Linked DNA regions of Homo sapiens. Each later gene encodes a partner of the first gene's protein in a complex. Each region holds a gene or a part of one and is shown in the gene's direction. Other genes may lie near its edges.

Region 1 (8,051 bases):
AACATCATACCTTGGCTGAAAAAGAGGTTGTAAACTCAGAGCTTATAGGCTCTGTTTAGCCAATAGATGCAGAAATGCATTGTGTTTAGTTTTCATAATGTTTTTATGTTTGTTTGAGGCAAGGTCTCACTCTTTTGCTGAGGCTGGAGCTCAGTGACACAGTCATGGCCCACTGTAGCCTCAACGTCCCAGGTTCGAGCAATCCTCCCACCTCAGTCTCCCAAGTAGGTGCGACTACAGGTGTATGCCACCACACCTGGTTAATTTTTTTATTTTTATTTTTATAGCGATGGGGTCTCACTATGTTGCCCAGGCTGGTCTCAAACTCCTAAACGCAAGTGATCCTCCTGCCTCACCCTCTCAAAGTGTTGGGATTGCAGGCATGAGCCACGGAGCTGGGCCAATTTTTTTTATTTCTTTAACAATAGAAGGTCACTACTGAACTGAAGGTGCTACATGCCAAAAGTTGTCTGAGCTAAGTATGAGGGAAGTACACACCCTGACCTAAGCTGTTGGAGATCCCACTCCTTTCAGACTCAAATGGTCTGTTTCACTCATCTGTGAAATCTGCCTGCTCCCTATGCGTAAGTATTTTGAGTTTGAGATCCTTTAAAGCTTTGATCTCCATTAAATTGCAGAATTTGTAGCAAAGGAAACACATTAAGGATTTGACGGTCTTATTTTCACTTCACTACAAATGAAGGTTCTGACAGCTGTTTTTCCTTTTTTTTTTTTTTAATTGAGACAGAGTCTCTCTCTGCTGCCCAGGCAGGAGTGCAATGGCACGATCTCAGCTCACTGCAACCTTCACCTCCCAGGGTCAAGTGATTCTCCTGCCTCAGCCTCCCGAGTAGCTGGGATTACAGGCATGTGCCATCACGCCTGGCTAATTTTTGTATTTTGAGTAGAGATGGGGTTTCACCATGTTGGCCGGGCTGGTCTTGAACTCCTGACCTCAGGTGATCAGCTCGCCTCAGCCTCCCAAAGTGCTGGGATTATAGGTCGGAGCCACCGCCCCCAGCCTTGTTTTTCTATGGGAAAAGATCCATAGCTTGGGGGCTCCCTGTTCTGAAGAGGATGCAGACAGTTGCTACCACGATAGCAAGAAAGAAGACAACCTGAGACTGAAAGCAGAATATTTAGAATTTCACAGTGGGGCTGCCAGTTGGGAGTGCACCTGCCTTGCTCTTCAGGAACTCTGTCATGGCTCGTCTTTCTTCCAGCCTAGCTGCACTGAGCAATAGGTAGCCTGATTCCAGAGTTGAATTTGCTGTAGCCAAAACAATTTAGTTTTAATTGGCCAGGCCAGTTGACACAGGCCACCCTGCCCTGAGGATTTTGGACCACCTGGCTGAACTTGTAGACTCTCTCCATGGCACTTCAGGCAATAGGTTTTGTCCATACTGTGCTTGTTCCATGCAGGAGGAGTGCCTGAAGTGCCTGCAGCCAAACCAGGCCCTGGCGATGCTCCTTTTCCCATGGGGGTGCTCCTGGAGCATCACTGGCCGTCCTGTCATTTCCTACGGCTGCGTCCTGGGCCAAAATACAAAGCAGCTTTGAGGTGTAACTTATTATTTTGCCTTATGCATTAAAAAGGCCAAATAACATTAAAAATCAGTTATCTAAAGTATTTTGTTTTGTTTTGTTTTGTTTTTTGAGACAGAGTCTCACCCTGTTGCCCAGGCTGGCGTGCAATGGCGCGATCTCGGCTCACTGCAACCTCTGCCTCCTCGGTTCAAGTGATTCTCCTGCCTCAGCCTCCTAAGCAGCATCTGCACCACCACACCCGACTAATTTTTTGTATCTTTAGTAGAGACGGGGTTTCATCATGTTGGCCAGGCTGGTCTCGAACTCCTGACCTCATGATCCACCTGCCTCAGCCTCCCAAAGTGCTGAGATTATAGGCGTGAGCCACTGCGCACAGCCTACAGTTTTAACATTTTTTTTAACGGTTATGTTAGCTAGAATGTTTGACAATGAGGAGGAGAAAAATCTGAGTGCTGAAGGGTCCATAAAGGTCTTTCTTTTTCTTTTTTTTCTTTTTGAGACAGGGTCTCAGTCTGTTGCTCAAGCTGGAGTGCAGTTGTGCCATCATGGCTCACTACAAACTCCACCTCCCAGGCTCAAGCAATTCTCCCACTTCTGCCTCTGGAGTAGCTGGGACTACAGGCACCTGCCACCACACTCTGCTAATTATATTTTTTGTAGAGACAAGAGTTTAGCCTTGTTGCCCAGGCTGGTCTCCAACTCCTGGGTGGCAAGCAATCCTCCTGCCTCAGCAACCCAAAGTGCTGAAATTACAGCAGTGAGCCACAACTCCTGGCCCATAAAGGTCTTTCTAAATCAAAACCAGACCCTCTTGTTGTCTTCTGCCCAGTCTGCTCATGGTTCTAATTTCCAAGTGTATATTCTTTTTCACCCACGTTGTAATGTTTGTTGACTTAAACCATATAGCGCTATAGATGATGGGGAGAAAACCTGTTGGATCACATTATTCAAAACTGTTTCCCAGAGTCGCAGGAAAACAATAGGTACCTCCTTGGAAATCTCCACTGTAGGGACAAGTCATCAAGGCTCAGCACCTCCCAATTTTTGCAAAAGGCACTATGACAAATCAAGGAACGCCTGTGCCTTACTCTTACCACTAGGTGTCACACAAAACAATCAGGAATAAACACCAAGATCCTGAAGGCTACCAGAAATATAAAACCATAGAAGGTGGTGCAAAAAAACCTTATTCCTCAGATATTTTTATTTTTTATAACCATTTTTATACCTGAAGCCAAATATCTTCTTCTGATGTATCCTCTATAATTGGGACATTTAGAGTTTGATGTTTCTGTACTTGTTTAAAAGAAGTGACTATCCCCAGATGGGGGTCAGGGGACACCCACCCTTTATTTTCCCTAACAGTTGGAGTAGAAAATACTTTTGAGTACATTCCAAATTATAGTGTAGTCAGTCTGATTTTCACAGCGTGTTTTCAAAAGTGTTAATACTAAGACTGCTTTGGCCAAATGATTAATATACTGCCAAGGGGTTCCTGGGTAAATTTCTATGCATTTCAGTTTCTTTTTAGGGAAGTAGGAACAATATCTATCTTACAAGATTAGTTCTGAGAACAATGTGGTACATAAGGCGCTGGAATTCTTTCAAAAATTTATACCCTGACATTTCCAAGAGCCATGGTCACCCTTACAAAGGAGAGTTAGGCATGCATTTGTAGACAAGCAATATGACTTTTAAGCTAGAAAAGACCTTAAGTAACATTCAATCTAATCTTATTATAAAAGTTAAGTATACCACAAAAAAGTTAACTGACCTCTCCAACTAATGTGCAGTCAAGTAAAGATAGAACCTGGAATTGAGATGTCCCATTGCAGTCACTGTTTCACCTTGCCTCAATCATTGTAGATTTGCATATCATAAACCTGCAGAGACAATGGTGTCTATCCCTGGGAAGTTTTCATTGTAACATGTGATCATTATTACCCTGGAGGGTCTATCTGATTTTAATTTTTTTCCCTTCATACTTGGTCTCTCTCTATCGAGTCAGATTTCTTTCATTCTAATATTAGGGGAGGGGTGGAGATACGAAGAGAGGGGAAGGATTGGTTAGTACAAGGCCAGTCAAGGTAAAGATGATTGCAATAATCACCAGAAATCTCTGCAGAACTACAGAGGCCTCCTGGGACTAATTCTGAAGAGCTCTGACCGAAGTTTGCTTTATTTTGCCTGTACCAATTCTACCAAGTAGATGAATTCAGTCCATGGCTTGCAGGCTTGGAGGTGGAGGTGGAGTGGAGAGCATAAATTATATTTCTGCAGGTGAAACCAGAGCATAGTGAGCCGAAACCCCTTTCTACCCAGGTGGCGTGAATGGGTCCAACTGCTACTGTCCCCCAGGACAAGAGAGCAAGGAGGGGCGGGCAGGATGGGACTACCTTGAGCCTCCCGCAGGATGCCTGGCAACTACTTTCTTAGTGGTCCTTAAGGTCCAATCGCGGTTAAGGCACTAACTAAACTCATTCTTCAGCCTCCTTCTCTAAGTTCTCCTCGAATTTGGGTGCCCAGAAGTAGGCTCACGATCCTTTTTCTGCGGGAGCACAATGTAGGTCAGATAGCATAAACGAATAGCTACTTATGAACACAATAGCTACTCTGCTATTGCAAGGTATCCACAACCACCACTACAAACATTAACACCTTGCTTTACTTGGGAAACAAAAAAAATCATGGTCCTATTCAGCAGTTTCCCCATACAGGGAGCGTTTGCCCCTCCCCCAGTCAACAGGGCTGTTCATCCCTAGGAAGTGATTTGAGAGTTCTCCAAGGATTTAGGCTTTTCACTCCTCCAAAGCTTTCACAACTTCTACCTGGCGGGGGTGCGTGGGGGGGTGGGGGCGAAGCTAAAAGTTCCTTTGCTGCAAAGAGCCTGGTATAGGCAGAAACACCGGCGCGGCCTGCAGCCCCCTAACCACAGTGCGTCCTTCCCCTTAGAAGTCTGGGGAAAGCAAATCCCTACGCCCAGCCATCATTTCCACTCTTGCGTTTTCAAAAGATCAAAAAACGGAAAGGACCGGCAGGTTGGCAAACCCCAAAGAGGGACCGCCCATCAGGTCGGCGTCCTTGGGATCTCAGCAGCCGACGACCCCAATTCAAATCGATCGTGGGAAACCCCAGGGAAAGAAGGCTCACTTGCAGAGGGACAGGATTACAGGGTGCAGGCTGCAGGGAAGTACCGGGGGGAGGGGGCCTGGTCGGAAGGACTTTCCAGCCACTCGGCGCTCATCAAAAAGTTCCCTGTCCGTGACCCTAGTGGCTCATCGCAGGGAGTTTCTCCGATGAACCCCAGCTCAGGGTTTAGGCTTCTTTTTCCCCCTAGCAGAGGACGAAGCCAGTTCTCTTTTTCTGGTCTGACTGGCTTGGAAATTCCCCGAGCCTGACCCCGCCCCAGAGAAATCCCCAGCCAGCGTTTATAGGGCGCCGCGGCGGCGCTGCAGAGCCCACAGCAGTCCGTGCCGCCGTCCCGCCCGCCAGCGCCCCAGCGAGGAAGCAGCGCGCAGCCCGCGGCCCAGCGCACCCGCAGCAGCGCCCGCAGCTCGTCCGCGCCATGTTCCAGGCGGCCGAGCGCCCCCAGGAGTGGGCCATGGAGGGCCCCCGCGACGGGCTGAAGAAGGAGCGGCTACTGGACGACCGCCACGACAGCGGCCTGGACTCCATGAAAGACGAGGAGTACGAGCAGATGGTCAAGGAGCTGCAGGAGATCCGCCTCGAGCCGCAGGAGGTGCCGCGCGGCTCGGAGCCCTGGAAGCAGCAGCTCACCGAGGACGGGGACTCGTAAGTGGCGGAGGCCCGGGGCTGGGGGTCGTCGGGAGGGCGGGACGCGCGCGGCCTGGGGGTGGGAGGCGCCGGGCCTGGAGCCCGAGCCGGGGGACCAGCGATGCAGCCGGGCGGGCGCCGCGGCACCCCGGGGCTCCTGCACCGCCCCGAACGCTGCAGGGCTGCAGGGCCGCGCGGGGCACCGGCCCAACTCGGAGGGGCGGCGGCTGGGCCCTGGTGGATGGCAGCGTCGCCACACGCCCCCTCCCCCCAGACCCGTCCTCTAGGCCGGGGGCGGGGCGGCAGCGGGGACGCGAAGTCCCCGGTTGCATAAGGCGGGGCGGGAGTTTCTGGCCGCTGGCGGGCGCCGAGCAGCCGGGAGGGGAAGTACAGGGCGTTCCGAGCTGGCGGGAGGGCGGGGCGGTCTGGCCGGCGCCCGCCGGGGCCGCGGGGGGAGGGGGGCGGAAAGTCCCTGGGCGCCTGCCAGGAACACTCAGCTCATAATAACCTCGCGGAAAACACCGCGGCCTCGGCCTCCAGAAACCCCGGCCTTGCGCAATCCCCCGCAGCCCGCGCCTCCCTGGGCCCCACGCGGTGCACTCACCACCCCTGGGGTTTTTCCCTCTCTTCCCCACAGGTTCCTGCACTTGGCCATCATCCATGAAGAAAAGGCACTGACCATGGAAGTGATCCGCCAGGTGAAGGGAGACCTGGCCTTCCTCAACTTCCAGAACAACCTGCAGCAGGTGCGCCGCTTGCCTGGCCCGGGTTCTCTCTGACCCTGGGACGTAGCTGATGTAGCAGAGTCACCCCAGATCCTTTCTGAATTCAGGGCCACTGAGCACTATTTACCCTCACCTTTTACTTCACATCAGCCCACATCCTAGAGAGTGAAGGAAATTCCACTGATTTGGTGAGGTCTTTATGACCCACCTGGAGCCTCTGCTATTTGCCAGCCCTCCCCACCCCCCTGTCTAGGAGGAGCAGCACCCAACCAGGAGACACGGGTTGAGGGGAACTCGGGGTGTGGGTTTGGTCCATGGCTTACTTTCTCTGGTCTCTCTTGCATTCGTAGACTCCACTCCACTTGGCTGTGATCACCAACCAGCCAGAAATTGCTGAGGCACTTCTGGGAGCTGGCTGTGATCCTGAGCTCCGAGACTTTCGAGGAAATACCCCCCTACACCTTGCCTGTGAGCAGGGCTGCCTGGCCAGCGTGGGAGTCCTGACTCAGTCCTGCACCACCCCGCACCTCCACTCCATCCTGAAGGCTACCAACTACAATGGTATGTCTGCCTCCCTGCCCTGCCCCACCCCCTCGGAGGGCAGGTGACGTGGAGAAGGGGCAGGTGGGCCAACTTAAGGAGTCCAGGCAAGAGCTTAAACTCCTAACATTTGGAAGGTTGAGAAAATATGTGTGCAAAGTGCCTATTGGATGCCTTTATAAAGTTCTTTCAGAACCCAGACTGTGGGTTCTTAAAATTCAGAAGATAAGACTACTTGTTCCATAAAAGAATAGGTGAAAGGAGTGAGGGTTGAAACAGGTGGTTATACTTTTTTCCTTTTGTTCTTCCAGGCCACACGTGTCTACACTTAGCCTCTATCCATGGCTACCTGGGCATCGTGGAGCTTTTGGTGTCCTTGGGTGCTGATGTCAATGCTCAGGTTGGTGCTTCCTGCCCCCGACGCACTGAGTCAGGCTCCTCGTGCTTATGTTGTGAGCAGAAATTCCAAATGCAGCCATAAGCATCTCAAATTCCTTTTGGTTTCAGGAGCCCTGTAATGGCCGGACTGCCCTTCACCTCGCAGTGGACCTGCAAAATCCTGACCTGGTGTCACTCCTGTTGAAGTGTGGGGCTGATGTCAACAGAGTTACCTACCAGGGCTATTCTCCCTACCAGCTCACCTGGGGCCGCCCAAGCACCCGGATACAGCAGCAGCTGGGCCAGCTGACACTAGAAAACCTTCAGATGCTGCCAGAGAGTGAGGATGAGGAGAGCTATGACACAGAGTCAGAGTTCACGGAGTTCACAGAGGACGAGGTGAGTCTGTGAACTCCTTCGGCGCTCTAACTAATGAGGTGCCATTCCCTTCACCCTCCCAGGCCCCTAGAGCTGCTCCTTATCAGAGGGGTATCTACATAATGAGTCTCTCAAATTTCTGTGCATAACCAGTATCCCAAGAATGTACCTGCCCCCCCTCTTTTTTTAAAGAGAAGCATTAAAGGCAAACTCTCTCAGCCTGTAAAGTTCATTATATTTGGGCTATGGAGAATGGAGTCCAAGAGTTATTTCCAGTAGTGGCCTCCCCATCCCGGTAGCTTGGCAGAGCTCCGCTCCGGAAGCTTAACGTGTCTTTTTTCCCCTTGTTTTCAGCTGCCCTATGATGACTGTGTGTTTGGAGGCCAGCGTCTGACGTTATGAGCGCAAAGGGGCTGAAAGAACATGGACTTGTATATTTGTACAAAAAAAAAGTTTTATTTTTCTAAAAAAAGAAAAAAGAAGAAAAAATTTAAAGGGTGTACTTATATCCACACTGCACACTGCCTGGCCCAAAACGTCTTATTGTGGTAGGATCAGCCCTCATTTTGTTGCTTTTGTGAACTTTTTGTAGGGGACGAGAAAGATCATTGAAATTCTGAGAAAACTTCTTTTAAACCTCACCTTTGTGGGGTTTTTGGAGAAGGTTATCAAAAATTTCATGGAAGGACCACATTTTATATTTATTGT
Region 2 (7,104 bases), on another chromosome or scaffold:
CAGAAATCACATTAACAGGAATGGATGTCTATGCAAAATTTCTCATTAATTTTCTTACTTTTAGTAGGAAGTTTGTTTTATTCGGTTGGTCTGTTGGTTTTCTGTTTACAAGGTGAATTGTCTACAGTAGTGGGATTGTTATATTAGAAGAGAAGGAGAAGGAAAAATAGAAGTTAGTGCTAGAGGATATGTTAAGATGTTCTGCTCCTACATCTACATTTGTGTCTAATCAGCATTAATTGATGACTACGTCTTGGTAAACAGTAGACCATACTGGAGCAATTTACTCTGCTTTTTGGGAATTAGTTCTCATTTGCACTCTTGCACCTCCCATAAATACTGAACTCACTTGTAGTGTTCTTAGAGGTCAGCAATAAACCATCAAGAGCATATGATCTCTCTTTGAATTTTGTCACTACTTTGGAGACAGACAGTTTGGAAGAACTGAAGGTACTCAGCCTCAGGGAGAAAGGTTTGAACGTTTTGGCATAGTCCTGCAAGTCAGTTTGGCTCCTTGACTGTGAATTTTTTTAATCAAAAAAGATTAATATTTGAAACCACATAATTTGGACAGTTAATAGTTCTGGTAACATAACCAAGCCTTTTATCTTTGTAGTATTTCATTAATTAGTATCCAGTGCCTCACTTTTAGAAGAAAAAAAGAGAAAAAAGTAGTAACATTCTTTTAATGATGATGAAATTGCTTCATACCTTTGGTCTCTGCTGTATTAGGGGTTGTTCCTGGGTGCAAATTAATATACTGTCTTTTACATTTCCGGAGGTTGTTGACCTGGCCTTGAAGATCAGCCAACAGTTTAGAAAATAAGTTGTGCAAATTGCATTGCTACACCTCAAATAATTTAAAGCCTGACAGTTCTGTACAGAATAAGAGTCACATAAGATGTGATTTGTTAAAGATTATAGAAATCTCAGAAGATAGATTATGGATGAAAATATTTGTTTAATTTAGAGTACTAATAATAAAAATAGTGCATTTTACATTTTAAAAAGAAAACAATTTTTATTGTGTCATATTTTCTGTAGTAACAAACAGAATTAATTATCAGTAATACAAATTTCATCTGCTTTAATTTATTGCCTGTTTTTGAAATTAGAATAATGATATATTTGGTTTAATTATCCATTACAAATTGCCTTATTATTTTTCATTCATCTTTCACCATTAATCCAGAAACCTTAAAATAGCTTTTATTTTGACCCATGCCTTCAGTAGATATCAACAGACTTGAGTTCATCTATGGATCCTATTAGTTTAAACTGTGACAAATTTTGACTGCTTAAGCTTTAGAAAAGAATTTATTCTTTAAAATAGCCAAAATTATAAAAAATGAAATAAAGAAAAAGCTGTTTGAGAGAATCAAATACTCTAGTTTAACTAAAAATAAATAATATCTAATCAATACTGACGAAAGAAATATCTGATGCTTAGCATTGTACTTGTTGGTACATAGTAAGCAATCATTAACTGTTAAATGAATGAATGATATGAAGTTGTTGCAAAATTTTTTTTTAAATGGACAGCCATCTTCTATAAGGAACAAAAATTACATTATTTTGCTTTGCCTTCTGGAAAGAAAGGAGCACAAAATAGTCCTTGTGTCTTAGATATTATGGAAATCTTATCTAAAGACCACTTGAAGTTTACTAGAACAAATAATTTATTAAAAAGTATCTGGCGCCTTCCAAAAGGGGAACATTTCATTCTGAAAGAGGCATTTATGAACTAGAAAAAAAATGCCTTTTAGTTTCAAAGTTTTAGAGGCACCAGAGCAAGATTATAAAGTAATTGGAATGATAAAAGGTGCTTGTAAAATTGAAAAATGTAATTTTTTGGTGAAGTTAGAATTTCTGTACACTCCATTGAAACTGTAATATCAAATACTAATACCTCCAAAAAAGAAACAATGCTACAAGCACTGCTTGGTAATCTAAGAATTGTTAACACTTATCTAAATTAATCAACCAAAAAGTTAAAACAAAATATGTTATTTTGTTATGTTACCTCTAGAATTAAACACCTATCACCCATAAATCTGTGACTGTTAAAAGTTACTAGATGGCAAACCTCAGGAACAAGCAGGCAGTTAGCAGGGTTTACTGTACTTTCCACTTTCATACTTTAATGATTTTTCCAACACTATAGAAGCTGGGGCCTCATCCTAGCACAGTTTGTTCATTATTTTTCAGTTGTAGCATTTTTTAAAAGTTGGCCTTGAATTTCTGAATTGAACCATTTATTTTTTTGTGGACACAGTTTTTTAAATGAAATATACCATTTAGACTAGAAAAGAGCAAAATGCCAATACTCCCTGTCCTAGTGTCATTGTGCCCCCTGGGAACCCTAATGCAGTCCTGTGGGAAAACAACCATTTTATTGAGCGCTGCTCACTTCAGTTCATTCTGCTTTGCTGCCACTTAGTTCTGGTTCTGACCCTGATCTCCCCTCACATCACTCACAACAAACATTCAAGTTTAAAAATTAAGTTAAAAGTTAGTTACATATATATGTAACTAATGTGTATATTAAATATACTGATATATATTAGTTACATATACAGATATGGCAACAACAAAAAAGGTTATATATATACATATTTGTAACTAATATGTATATTAAATATAATGATATATGTATAAATACATATTTGTAACTAATATAATTATATTTAATATATATTAGTTACAAATATGTATATATAATATTTTTTGTTGTTGCCAGCAAAATGAGAAAGAAATTAAATGTTAACATCTATAACAATTGCACTGTAAAGCCGTCATTGTTGAAAAGTACTCCGAAGATTAATAGCGGCAGTGTTTGTTAAAATAATAAAATAATCCAGGCACTCTGCCTGTGACTTCCCCATGAGATGGCTTCCAGAAAAAGATAAATTTTTGTGTGTTCCCTTACGAGTTCAGTCTGCAGCTTCTGGGCATGAAGAGAAGCATAAACAAAACAAACAAGGCTCTAACTTTGTTATAATCCTTACGCTACTAGTAGAAATGTATGGACAATTCATGCATTTCATATTGGAAAATAAAGCTATTAGATTTTTCTTTGAGATGAACCTTTTTTTTGTAATTTATTTTTTATTTTTTATTTTTTTTCAGTAGAGATGGGATTTTGCTCTGTTGGCCAGGCTGGTCTCAAACTCCTGACCTCAAGTGATCCACCCGCCTCAGCCTCCCAAAGTGCCGGGATTACAGGCGTGAGCCACCTAGCTTGGCCAAGGTGAACCTTTTTGATAAATGAGGCTCACTAATATTTCTAGGATTTACTTTTCACTAACTTGAACTAAAGAAAGTATAAGACCTGCATAAAGTTGAGCATACCTCTATAATGTCCCATTTTAAAAAGCAATTTGTTTTTAATGACTTTTATTTGTTAAAAGCAGTTATTTCAAAAAATTATTTTTATTATTTATCATGTCATTTGGACTGAAAATACTATACCATATTTCAGTGTTAGGGCACACCTATCCCTCTTTATCCCAGACGTCAATTCTACCATATAACAAGTATGTAAAAAAGAAAACATAAAAGTGATGACAGACTCCCTAATCAACCTATTTATTGGTTCTAAGCCCAAGCCTGCAGTTCATTTAAATAGTGAAAATAGATTACTTAATTGTCTTAGAAAATATGTCTTCCATGACAAGAATTTTAGGAATGAGAAAATAACTATTTTTGGATGTTTTAACACAAATTCCCAAATCATGTTTTATTGATATTTGAAGAACCTCTTTGTCTACCAGTTCTTAAGTATAGGCTTATTTTGTAAGGCTTAAACATGTATTGGTGTTTGACTGTTAAGACTTGATCTATAACCTTCAGTGTCTTTTTCTTTTAAATGGGGTATGGACTTGGTAATGAGGCCAGAGGAGAATACCTTACAATTTATAGCATCTGCATATAATACAAGAACCTTCATGATTTATAAAATTAAAATGATGATGATGTGGAATGATGGAAGAAGCATGTGTGGGTGGCTATTTATGTAGAGGAAATTAGAAGTTGAAAGCAATGTTAAGAATTAAAATTAAATTACACTTAATTTTTTGCTCAGTTGGATAGTCAGGAAAGTACTTAAATCAGCAATTGATTTACGTAAAATCAAAACTGAAAACTGAATATACAATCTAGGAAATAGGAAAAAAATTTTTAGTGTGTTCATACTGCTAATTTCAAACCAAGCAAAAAACCTGGGGAACTACTTTTCAGAGGAGATGGCTTAAAATGAACCAAAAATATAGCCATTTCTCTACCCTATTCATTTAATGCATTCATTTATTATACTGCTAATACATGATAAGGTGAATAGGTTAAGCATCGTTTGTATATGTGTATGTGATTTTAAACCTGAGTCTTTTGAAAGATTGGTCAAAGCAAAGGATAATGAAAGCATAAAGATTTAGGGGGAAGAGTCCTCTATAAAACTAAGACTTAAACTTTGTTATCAACTTGAATGTGAAGATAGAATAATCTAGAAAGTGAATGAGAATTATAAATAAAAGGACAAATCATATATCTCATGGTTGAGAAATACAATGAGATAAATTGTATATCTCATCTCATGGAGGGTCATAATGAAAGAAGTAAGAGAGATTGCCCTTGGATAGAACCTTTCGGCAGACATTTCATAATGGATTATCATATTTTTGCTAAACTGGTAAGAATGGACTTTTCACCACATTATGAAAAAACACTTTAGAAGTCAGTTGCGATCAAGCAAATATAAGTACCTGGGAAATTAAAATCAAAAGCACAGCAGTCCAACAATAGTCAAATGCATTTACTCACTCTCATACCATATCATAGCGTTAATTTGAGATAATGTCTTTATGGTGTCTCTTTATATATTTACTCGATTTCCCATTTAAGACATTTAACCAAATTTAAAAAGCAATCCTTAGAAACTTTAAAAATATTTCCTATTTTAAACCATTACATAATCATTTACCCTGCAGTTACAATTCTTTTTTTGTGATGGGTGGGGAAGTATCCCATTTCTCTTAGAAAGTCTTCTGTAATAGCCAAATAGGAGTCAATCCAAGTTGCTTAGAGAGGTAGTTCAATCCTGTGTTGAAATAGATGACTTTTGGAGTAATTGTGCTATATTTACTGAGTATCTGTTGAACTGTAGGAGTCCAGTCATTCAAGGCAAGCTACAGAAATGATTTTATTGCTGAGGCACTTAAGTATCTTCACATCTATATGCCAATATTAAATTTCTCATCATCCTTGATCCCCACCCCTTTGCACAGATTGGTATCCCCAGCACATTAGGGAATGCGGTTGTTAGCCTGTTAGGGTCCATTCAGTAGATTTCTCATGCCAGAAATCTAGAAGCCCTTCTTATACATTCAGCTTTCTTCTTCAGTCAGTCACCAAGTTCTATCAAGGCAGCCTCCTCATCTCCAGAATCCATCCCTTCCTCGTTGAATTTCTAGATTTTATTTTTGCATTGTCTCCTGCTTCTAACCCATCGTTCATTTCGCATAATGGTCAGCTTTCTAAAGTGTAAATCGGATCATGTCTCTGCAGTGAATCCCAGTTGTCTTCACAAGCTGATTCTCGCACACCTCACCCCCTTACTCCCTCCGGTGTTCCCCAACCATCCCCTAATCTCAAATCCTCCACACCGACTTTCAGTTTCCTATCCACAGTTTCTGACTTTGAATGCCTTTGCTTATGCCCTCCCTGTATGAGAAGTGCCTTTTCTTTCCTAGCCATCCTGCTAACTTCTAAACCCTTAGGCCTGGTTTGAGCATCACCATTTCTCTCACTTGCCTTTCTGTTTTCTCCCTCCCCTTTCCATAAAGAGTTATGTGCCCCCATTCTGTGTTCTCCTGAATTCCTGTGGGTCCTAGAAAAGAAACATCTTGAGGGCAAGGAGTTCATCTTATTTACTTTTTATTTGCACAGCACCTGGTGTGTTTGCTGAATAAGTAAATACCGAACAAGATATCAAGAGACAGTGCTGCCAATTAACTGTGTGGCTCTGAGCAAGTTAATTAACTTCTCTGAGTCTTATTTTTGTTCTGTAAAAAAAATGAGGTTTGACAAAATGAGCATCTCTCTCTAAAATTATGTGTTTCTTTGATGTAATTGTATTAATTGGAAGACTTCAGATTTTCTTGCCATATCAAGATAGGTCAACTTAAGAAAAATGCATGTGAGTAAGTACCAAGCCAATTCTTGATTATCAGTATGATAATATGAGGAACTGCCCATTTTGTCGATAATAAGTTATAATTTTTGGTCTCAGTGTAGGTTCTTTCTCAAATCCAGATGTTTCTGGTGTTGCATTTTTTCATTATTATTCAGTCTCTCGCATTCATATTTCTCCAAAGAAATTTATGGAAAACTTGAGACAAAAATTGAATGTAAAGTTTAATATTTAAATGCTAGATTGATTCAAGGTCTCACTAATTATAACTATATTTGGAGGGAGAAGAAGGGGAGGTGGTGGTAGTATGAGCTGAATCCTCCTCTGTTCCTTCCTAGAAGGAACACAACGTCCTACATCAAGAAAAAAGACAGAAGCATATCTTGGAGATATGAAAAGAACCACCAGGTAAACTAAAAAGAAAAAGAGTGTTAAAAAGTCAGCCTTTAAAAAGCAGGATTGGAGATGAGGAGGGGTGGAGTAGGGGAAGCATTGCTTGTTTATAGAAGCTCTTCCATCTTCGTATAGTGTGATTTTTATTTTTTTATTATTTTTTCCTTCCTTTTTTTTGACCTCCAGCTTTAGTATAGTACAGTTGACAGAAATTATATATGTTTATGGTACACAAGATGATGTTTTGATATACATATGCATTGTGAAATGATTAAATCAAGCTGATTAACATAAGTAGGGTTTTATTTCTTTAACAGTGATTTATTTGAATATATGTTGAGTCCTTTCTATGTGCCAGACACAGTTCTAAGGACAAGGCACACAGTGCCAAACAAGACAGAAATCCAGAAATTCATGGAGCTTAAATCATGTAGTCTTTTCAGTTTTTAAAATTTTCTTGCTGGGCGTAGTGGCTCATATCTGTAATCCCAGTACTTCAGGAGGCCGAGAAGGGAGGATTGCTT
Region 3 (7,583 bases), on another chromosome or scaffold:
GTGGAAAATGAACCATATAAATGTGTAATAGAATTATTTCTAATATATCAAAATAAGTAAAAATAAAAATATAAAGCAATGGCGATTAGAAGGCAGCTTGTGTGTGAGTGTGTCTGTATGTAGTTATTCTTTAGTCCTAAGAGCCAAGATAGTTGTTTTGTTGACATTGGGCTTGTGCTGCTGTTACGTGGGCCTGAGTCCCCTAGAAGGAGAGGCAGAGGAATTTTAAATCAGAGTGGGTATGACTAGGCTCCTGACTCTGCAAACTCATGTCTAGTTGAGGTGACAAAACTACAGTTTAAGGCAGGTTGTAATCACAGCTAATATGGCACTTTGACTGTGTTATCTCTGTACCTCACAAAAACCCTGTATGGTGGGTGTTCTTATTTGCATTTCATAGGTGAGGAAATCAAGACTCAGAGATGAAATCATCTGTCTAGATCATAGATAGCAAGTGGCAAAGCTGGAAATGGGATCCAGTCTCTGATCTTTCTCACACCAGGGCCTGCCCTTTTTCTATGTGGTGTTGCTTCTCTAAGTACCAATAATATAGTTCCAAGTTTTTTAAGAGAGGGAGAAGCAAGTGGGGTTTGAAGGATCAGGAAATATATAGTACCTGAGCTGGTCATTTAAAACGGGTATGATTTTGATCAATAGTATGGCAGAGATGGCACTCAGGGCAGGAGAGCAAAGTCAGAGAAATTTGCATACCTCCTTTGGGTGATGTTGAGGAGAGCTCAGGCTGATAGTTTCCATTTTGACTTCTTTGTGCTATTTCTGCAGGGAGGTCCTGGCCAGTGAAGCCATCCTTAATGTTCCTGATAAGTCTGACTGGAGGCAGTGTCAGATCAGCAAGGAAGACGAGGAGACCCTGGCTCGCCGCTTCCGGAAAGACTTTGAGCCCTATGACTTTACTCTGGATGACTAAAACAAAGGGAAGAACTTTTTATGAACTCCACAGGAAGTAGTAAAGCTTTTTTTTTTTTTTAATTAAAAGAATTTTTTTTGAGACAAAGTCTCGCTCTGTCACCCAAGCAGGATTGCAGTGGCATAACTGTGGCTCACTGTAGCCTCAACCTCCTGGGCTCTAGAGTTCCTCCCACCTCAGCCTCATGAGTAGCTGGGACCACAGGCGCATGCTACCATGCCTGGCAAACTTTTTTGATTTTTTATAGAGACAGGAGGGTCTCCCTGTGTTGCCCAGGCTGGTCTGTAATGCCTAGGCTCAAGGGATCCTCTGCCTTGGCTTCTTAACCTGCTGGGATTACAAGCATGAGACACCATTCCTGGCCTAGAAGCCTATTTTTAAAGAAACTACAATCTCCCATGGGGACTGTTTCCCTGCCTCTTTTGTGCAGTCCCATGGAACTTGCCTACAGCAAGAGGCCTAAGATTGAATCTTTTTGGGGAAAAGTCATTCTAGGATGAAAATCCTATGTTAAGGCCGGGCGCAGTGGCTCACGCCTGTAATCCCAGTACTTTGGGAAGCCGAGGCAGGTGGATCACCTGAGGTGAGGAGTTTGAGACCAGCCTGGCCAACATGGTGAAACCCCGTCTTTACTAAAGCTACAAAAATTAGCTGGGCGTGGTGCCAGGCACTTGTAATCCCAGCTACTCAGGAGGCTGAGGCAGGAGAATTGCTTGAGCCTGGGAGGTGGAGGTTGCAGTGAGCCAAGATCGCTCCATTGCACTCCAGCCTGGGTGACAGTGAAACTCCATCTCAAAAATAAAAGAATAAAAGTATGTCTGTCATCCAGCTCCTATGTCTGTTATCCAGCTCCAAGTACAGCTTGTGTATATCAACATTTTCAAAAACCTTTAAACTACCAAATGAAATCCAGATGTTTTTCCATGGTTGAGAAGTGTCTTGTGTTCATGTTGCCTGTGACCGTTGAAATGAAGTAGTATGTGTAATAGCAGGGGCTAGAGCTTTAGGCCCAGCTGTTACTCCAAAATCACACAGGGCAGTTTCTCCCTGAACAACCCAAAGTGGAAAAGGGATCCAAGGCTTTTGCTATTTTTCTCTTAAGCATTCATCTTATTCATAGATAAGAGCCCATTTAGTCCTTCGGATATTTAACTCCTATGTGCCAGGCATTTTTCTAAGCTCCAGGACCATAGTCATGTCCCAATATGGTCCCTGTTGTCCCAGAGATTACAGTTTAATGGGGAATAGAAGGGACAGATTTAAGAAAAAAAAGATAATTCTCCTTTGGATATTGTTTTAGGTGCTTGATATATCTAATATGTGTCTGTTGTGCTGCTGGGCAGTTCTAAACTCATCAGTACCTGGGTTGGTTACAGGGCTTTGGGGATCATCAGGGTATAGGCCATAGGTGAAATTAAGATAGGGTAAATACAGTCCTGAGCTGAAGATGATTACCTGAGAAATATCAGTATTTAAGGAGTGCTTGAAAATAGTGATCTAACATTTACATAGAGAAGGAGCAAAGAGAATGCTACATATTAGGCGCAAAAAGAAAAATATTTTTACCTTTATATTGGGCACTTATGGTCCAGACACTGTTTCATTTAATCTTCACAAAATCTCTGTGAGGTAGGTATTACCTCTATTTTACTCATGAAAAAAAAACTGAGACTCGGAAAATTGAAGATTGTGGAGCCTGGGGTCAACAGGCTTAGGCTTTTTAAAAAACAGGCCAGGTGGCTCATGCCTGTGATTGCAGCACTTTGGGAGGCTGAGGCAGGCAGATGACCTGAGATCAGGAGTTTGAGACCAGCCTAGCCAACACGGTGAAACCCCGTCTCTACTAAAAATGCAAAAAATTAGCTGGGCGTGGTTGCATGCGCCTGTAATGCCAGCTACTCGGGAGGCTGAGGCAGTAGAATTGCTTGAACCCTGGAGGTGGAGGTTGCAGTGAGCTGAGATCACACCATTGCACTCCAGCCTGGGTGACAAGAGTGAAACTCCATCTCAAACAATAACAACAACAACAACAAAAAACAACTCAAATTACTCATGGCCCTGGGAATGGGGGCATTTAAAAAGTTAACCAAGGGAACCAACCTGGTTTCCACAAAGATGGCCACTTCTGGGTCAGCCCAATCATCAGTATCCCTGGGTCCTCAGCATCCCTTCCTACCTCTTTTGACTGGGAATTACGAGATTACAGCCCCACCTACGGAAATTGAGCACATTAGCACTGGCCATGCTGTACATACAGCAAATGAGAGGGCTTCATACTGTTACAACAATCTGTACCACAATTCTCTGTGCGGTCTGCCCAGCTCTAAATGACATGTCCTCAGAGGCATCATCATCTCCAAGTCCATGGAAACCATGCACTTACAGAAACCAGAACCTCCCATACCACATGTTACTAATGACCTACAACATCGACTTCGTCTGTATCATGCAGTGCTCAACATTCTGGTTGCAGCATCACATTTATCAATAATTTGATTCCATGCTGATTCCTTTACTTGGAGTATTGAGATCCCCCAGGTACAGTGAAGGTATGACCCTCTTAAATGGAAGACCAGGAGTTGTTTCCCCTATGCTATGGCAATCCGCCACCCGGAAGCACTTGCTGCACCAACAGCATTCCCAAAGCTTGCCTCTGCAGCCCTGTAGCACCCATTAGAAACACTTCTCACAATGAACTACTGTGCTGGCAAACCCATAACTGGACTGCCGGACAGCAAGCTCTGTGAGGCATCTAGGAAAAAAGCTCGCGAAATCCCGAGAAACACTCTTCACTCCGGAATAGCGTCACATTCTTGAGTCATTTGGGATGACAGGGGATATCCTGGAGCAGGTGTATTGGGAAGTCAGTGAACAAGAAGGCTAATTCATTAGTGGGCCTGCTAGCGTAGTATTTTAACGATTTCGCAGCCTTTAAATCATTGGTGGTCTTTAGCGTGCCGGATCAGCTGGTGGTGGAGTTGGAGGATAGATGGCAGGGATCTGAAGAAAGGTGAAGTGTAGATAGGAGTAGAGACAATATGAAGTTTAGAAAAGACTAATTGCTGGACGCGGTGGCTCATGTCTATAATCCCAGCACTCTGGGATGCCAAGGTGGGAGGACTACTTGAGACCAGGAGTTCGGGACCAGCCTGGGCAACGTAGCAAGACCATGTCTCTACAAAAAATAAAAAATTAGCCAAGCGAGGTGGTGCGCGCCTGCAATCCCAGCTACTCGGGAGGTGAGAAGATCGCTTAATTCCGGGAGGTCGAGGCTGCAGTGAGCCGTGATCGTGCCATTGCACTCCAGCCTGGGCAACGGAGCGAGACCCCATCTTAATTAAAAAGAAAAAAATACAGGAGAGACTGGGCTGCTTTGAAAAGTGGATTTGACGGGAATGTGGGGTTTGGAGAGATCTTATGTTTTCCAAGACTAGAAAAACATTGTGGTTCCGTTCAGCCCTCCCGGAAAATACGTAGGGGACTTAAAGAGCGGACCGAGTACCTGTTTGTTTCCCCATCCCTTAGCCGGCAGGGCTCTGGCAGCGCCCTGGGAGAACTTAGGGAAGGGCCTTCTCGCAGCGGTTACCGGAAGTGACGCATTCATTCTCGCGAGAACAAAGACGCGCGAGCATCGGCGGCCCGGAACCGGCCTTGGAACAACTGTGGAACCTGAGGCCGCTTGCCCTCCCGCCCCATGGAGCGGCCCCCGGGGCTGCGGCCGGGCGCGGGCGGGCCCTGGGAGATGCGGGAGCGGCTGGGCACCGGCGGCTTCGGGAACGTCTGTCTGTACCAGCATCGGGTGAGGCGGGGCGTGAGAGGGAGCGGCGGTGGGTTGGAGCGGCGGTGGGTTTGAGCGTCTGTGGAACACAGGGCTGACAGTGTGGGATAGATGGTTGGTGGGACCTTGGGCAGTATTTGGGGGCCAGTGGGCTTGTGTGTGTGTATTAGAGAGAAAGATACTATGCCTGTGTGTCCAAAGTTGTATTTGAGGTACTGGGCATAGATAGAGCTGTTGCGGGGAACTTGGGTATGACTGTCAGGCTGTGACCAGGTGTTTAGTGAGTGTGACAGTGCGTGTGTGTCTCTGTGAATGTGGAGTGTCAGGGTGTGTGAGGCAGATGCACGTCACAGTGTGTATGTAGGAGCACGAATGTGTGAGAAGAGGGCTGAAGGGGACTGCCTTTGGGAATGTGTGCGTCCGTGTGTGTGTGTGTGTGTGTGTGTGTGTGTGTGCGCGCGCGCGCGCGCGCTTGGAGGCCATATGATATCAGTGGGGACTGGAGTAGACAAGGAAGGCTTCATGATGGGTCCAGAGTTAAGCCTTTGGAAGCATGGATGGGCTTTGGAATTGGGGATGTATTCCAGGTCGGGACAGTATGAGGGTGAGTTGGTGCAGAGCATGGCTTCAAACGAAAGGCTATATTAGTAGATGGAGATGGGGGGCGCTCTAGTAGGTGGAGGACAGTTAACATCAGACTCAAGAATTTTACTTTGATTTAATAGAGAATGTTTAACCATTGTAGTAGCAGTTAAAAAATCATATTTGGGTCTTGTTTGTTTGTTTTTGTTTTTGAGACGGAGTCTCACTCTGTCGCCCAGGCTGGAATGCAGGGCGCGATCTCGGCTCACTGCAGCCTCCTCCTCCCGAGTTCAAGCGATTCTCCTGCCACAGCCTCCTGAGTAGCTGGGATTACAGGCGCCCGCCACCGTGCCTGGCTAATTTTTTTGTATTTTTAGTAGAGACGGGGTTTCACCATGTTGGCCAGGCTGGTCTCGAACTCCTGACCTCAGGCGATCCACCTGTCTCAGGCTCCCAAAGTGCAGAGATTATAGGCGTGAGCCACGGCACCAGGCCTGGGACATGTATTTTTTGATATACCGATAAAAGCTGTGAACCCTTTCCCCAGAAAAATGCACAGATGCACATTCACACAACCATGCATTGCCATTTGAGAGGTTCGTGCCTTCCTAAAGGACATTTTAGGTAAATAGACCCTGGACTAATAATTCCTGTAATATAGGCTTTGTTTTGTTGCCTGTAAAGTAAGTATAGTATAATAATTACATGCATCATGGATTTGAGAGTTAAATAAAATAGTAATGTGTGTAAAGCTAAATACGGTACCTGACCCATGAAAGCCCTCAACTGTTAGCACCTGCTGCTACTTTGTTGTTGTTGCTGCTATGATCATAATGCTCCTCATTAATTGGCCTTAAGGAAATGTCAAGATAAAAAGTGTTGTTCTAGGAAAATGGTTTTGTAAAGGATAAATTTGAGTGGAACAACATATGGGACAAGATGAACAGGTAAGATCTTACTAAAATGCCTGGGCTTGGCTTGTGAATAGAGAAGTTAATTCAAGAGGAAAAGTAATAATTTGTTATCTAAAGGAACATGGGTGTAGTGAGAAAGCTCGTAATTTGGGGTGGGAGAAAGGGGAGATAGGAGTCTACCTTGGGAAAATAGGCATATTTAGGGTAATTAGAATGACAACTGAAACTGTTAGAACTGAGGAAGTTTTGTGAACCAGGTTTCTAGATAGGGCATAGGAGAAAATCTTGGAGAAAGAGAATGGAAGGTGAAGGACTAAGGCATTAAGTCCTGTGATAGCAGGATAAGTAGTAAATTTAATAATTCTCACCATCAGAGGGAACATAACACACTAAAAAAAAAAAAAAGTGGGAGCCAAGTGCTTCCAGTGGCATGTTGCCTGTGTTACCTAAGCCTGCCTATCCGCCTGGTCATAAGGAAAAAGGATGCATGCTGGCAGCTTTTGTGACTTCTTTTCTTGGTCCCTGGGTGGGGATGGATGAATTAATCACTTTTTGTTTTATTATGGTAAAGTATACATAACACAACATTTATCACTTTATTTTTAAGTGTACAGTTAGGTGGCATTAAGTACATTGACGTTGTTGTACAGCCATAACCCTATCTCCAGAATATTCCGACTTTTTTGTTGTTGTTGTACATCTATAAACTTCCCATAGAATATTCTTTGTGAAAAGGTAGAATTTCACAGAGTTGATGAAATATAAATTAAGGAGTTGAAGGATCTTACAAAGTGGGATTTTTGAAATAGATAACTTATTGCTCCATTAACATGAGCATTCAGGGCTCAGTGTTGTTCATGGTTGTGCCTGATTCTCATTTCCATGGTGGTAAAGGCCTGCATGGGACATAGATATAACTGGTCACCTGCTCATAACAAAAGGAAGATTGAAGGGAGTGAGAACTGTGGGTAGGCTAGCATGCAGTCTATCCTAGTTTCCTTCTTCTCTATGCACCAGGTATCATCTTATCTCTAGCTTCTTTTTTCCTCTCACCCTCCAATTCACACTACCCTATCCAAGCTATGTCTTGCTTCCCCACCTATAATATATTTTTTCTGTCCTGGCCCCTGGGCTCTTCTCTCTGTATTCATACACAGCCTTTATTACAACTCTGGTTTGTGTCAGAGATTACATATGTTGGAAATTCTTTTGAACTCTCCTTGTGATATCAGAAACATAGTGTAGCCTGTTTAGCCCTGACTGCTATTTCTGAGCTGCATTATTAATGTTGCCAGAATATGATGGGGTCTGGCTATTTCCTGTAATATGCATCAGAATGGGTTTAATTTCAGTCAGAATTGGCTAAATTACTAGTCACAGG

Evidence for each region.
Region 2: the proteins of NFKBIA (region 1) and NFKB1 are in contact, whole or in part, in a crystal structure (PDB 1NFI), measured with the Homo sapiens proteins. Residues at the interface, in NP_065390.1 of Homo sapiens: Asn108 (codon at 6,054), Asn109 (codon at 6,057), Leu110 (codon at 6,060), Gln111 (codon at 6,063), Arg140 (codon at 6,479), Tyr181 (codon at 6,602), Pro214 (codon at 7,098), Cys215 (codon at 7,101), Asn216 (codon at 7,104), Arg218 (codon at 7,110), Tyr248 (codon at 7,200), Gln249 (codon at 7,203); in NP_001158884.1 of Homo sapiens: Lys251, Ile252, Val253, Arg254, Met255, Asp256, Arg257, Thr258, Ala259, Pro326, Lys345, Leu348, Tyr350, Ile353.
Region 3: NFKBIA (region 1) and CHUK share a complex: the UniProt entries of both Homo sapiens proteins name them as parts of the 70-90 kDa complex.

The regions. Positions count from the first base shown.
Region 1 is NC_000014.9:35,401,707-35,409,757, reverse strand, and holds the start of NFKBIA (NF-kappa-B inhibitor alpha), read left to right. Parts: upstream 1-5,008; 5' UTR 5,009-5,113; coding exon 5,114-5,340; intron 5,341-5,959; coding exon 5,960-6,068; intron 6,069-6,397; coding exon 6,398-6,608; intron 6,609-6,898; coding exon 6,899-6,987; intron 6,988-7,094; coding exon 7,095-7,364; intron 7,365-7,697; coding exon 7,698-7,745; 3' UTR 7,746-8,051. UniProt on the Homo sapiens protein: Inhibits the activity of dimeric NF-kappa-B/REL complexes by trapping REL (RELA/p65 and NFKB1/p50) dimers in the cytoplasm by masking their nuclear localization signals.
Region 2 is NC_000004.12:102,504,355-102,511,458, forward strand, and holds part of NFKB1 (nuclear factor NF-kappa-B p105 subunit), read left to right. Parts: intron 1-6,525; exon of another isoform or gene 6,526-6,578; coding exon of another isoform or gene 6,579-6,595; intron 6,596-7,104.
Region 3 is NC_000010.11:100,226,572-100,234,154, reverse strand, and holds the start of CHUK (inhibitor of nuclear factor kappa-B kinase subunit alpha), read left to right. Parts: upstream 1-4,558; 5' UTR 4,559-4,622; coding exon 4,623-4,727; intron 4,728-7,583. Other genes in the region: CWF19L1 (CWF19-like protein 1), read left to right, coding at 784-928.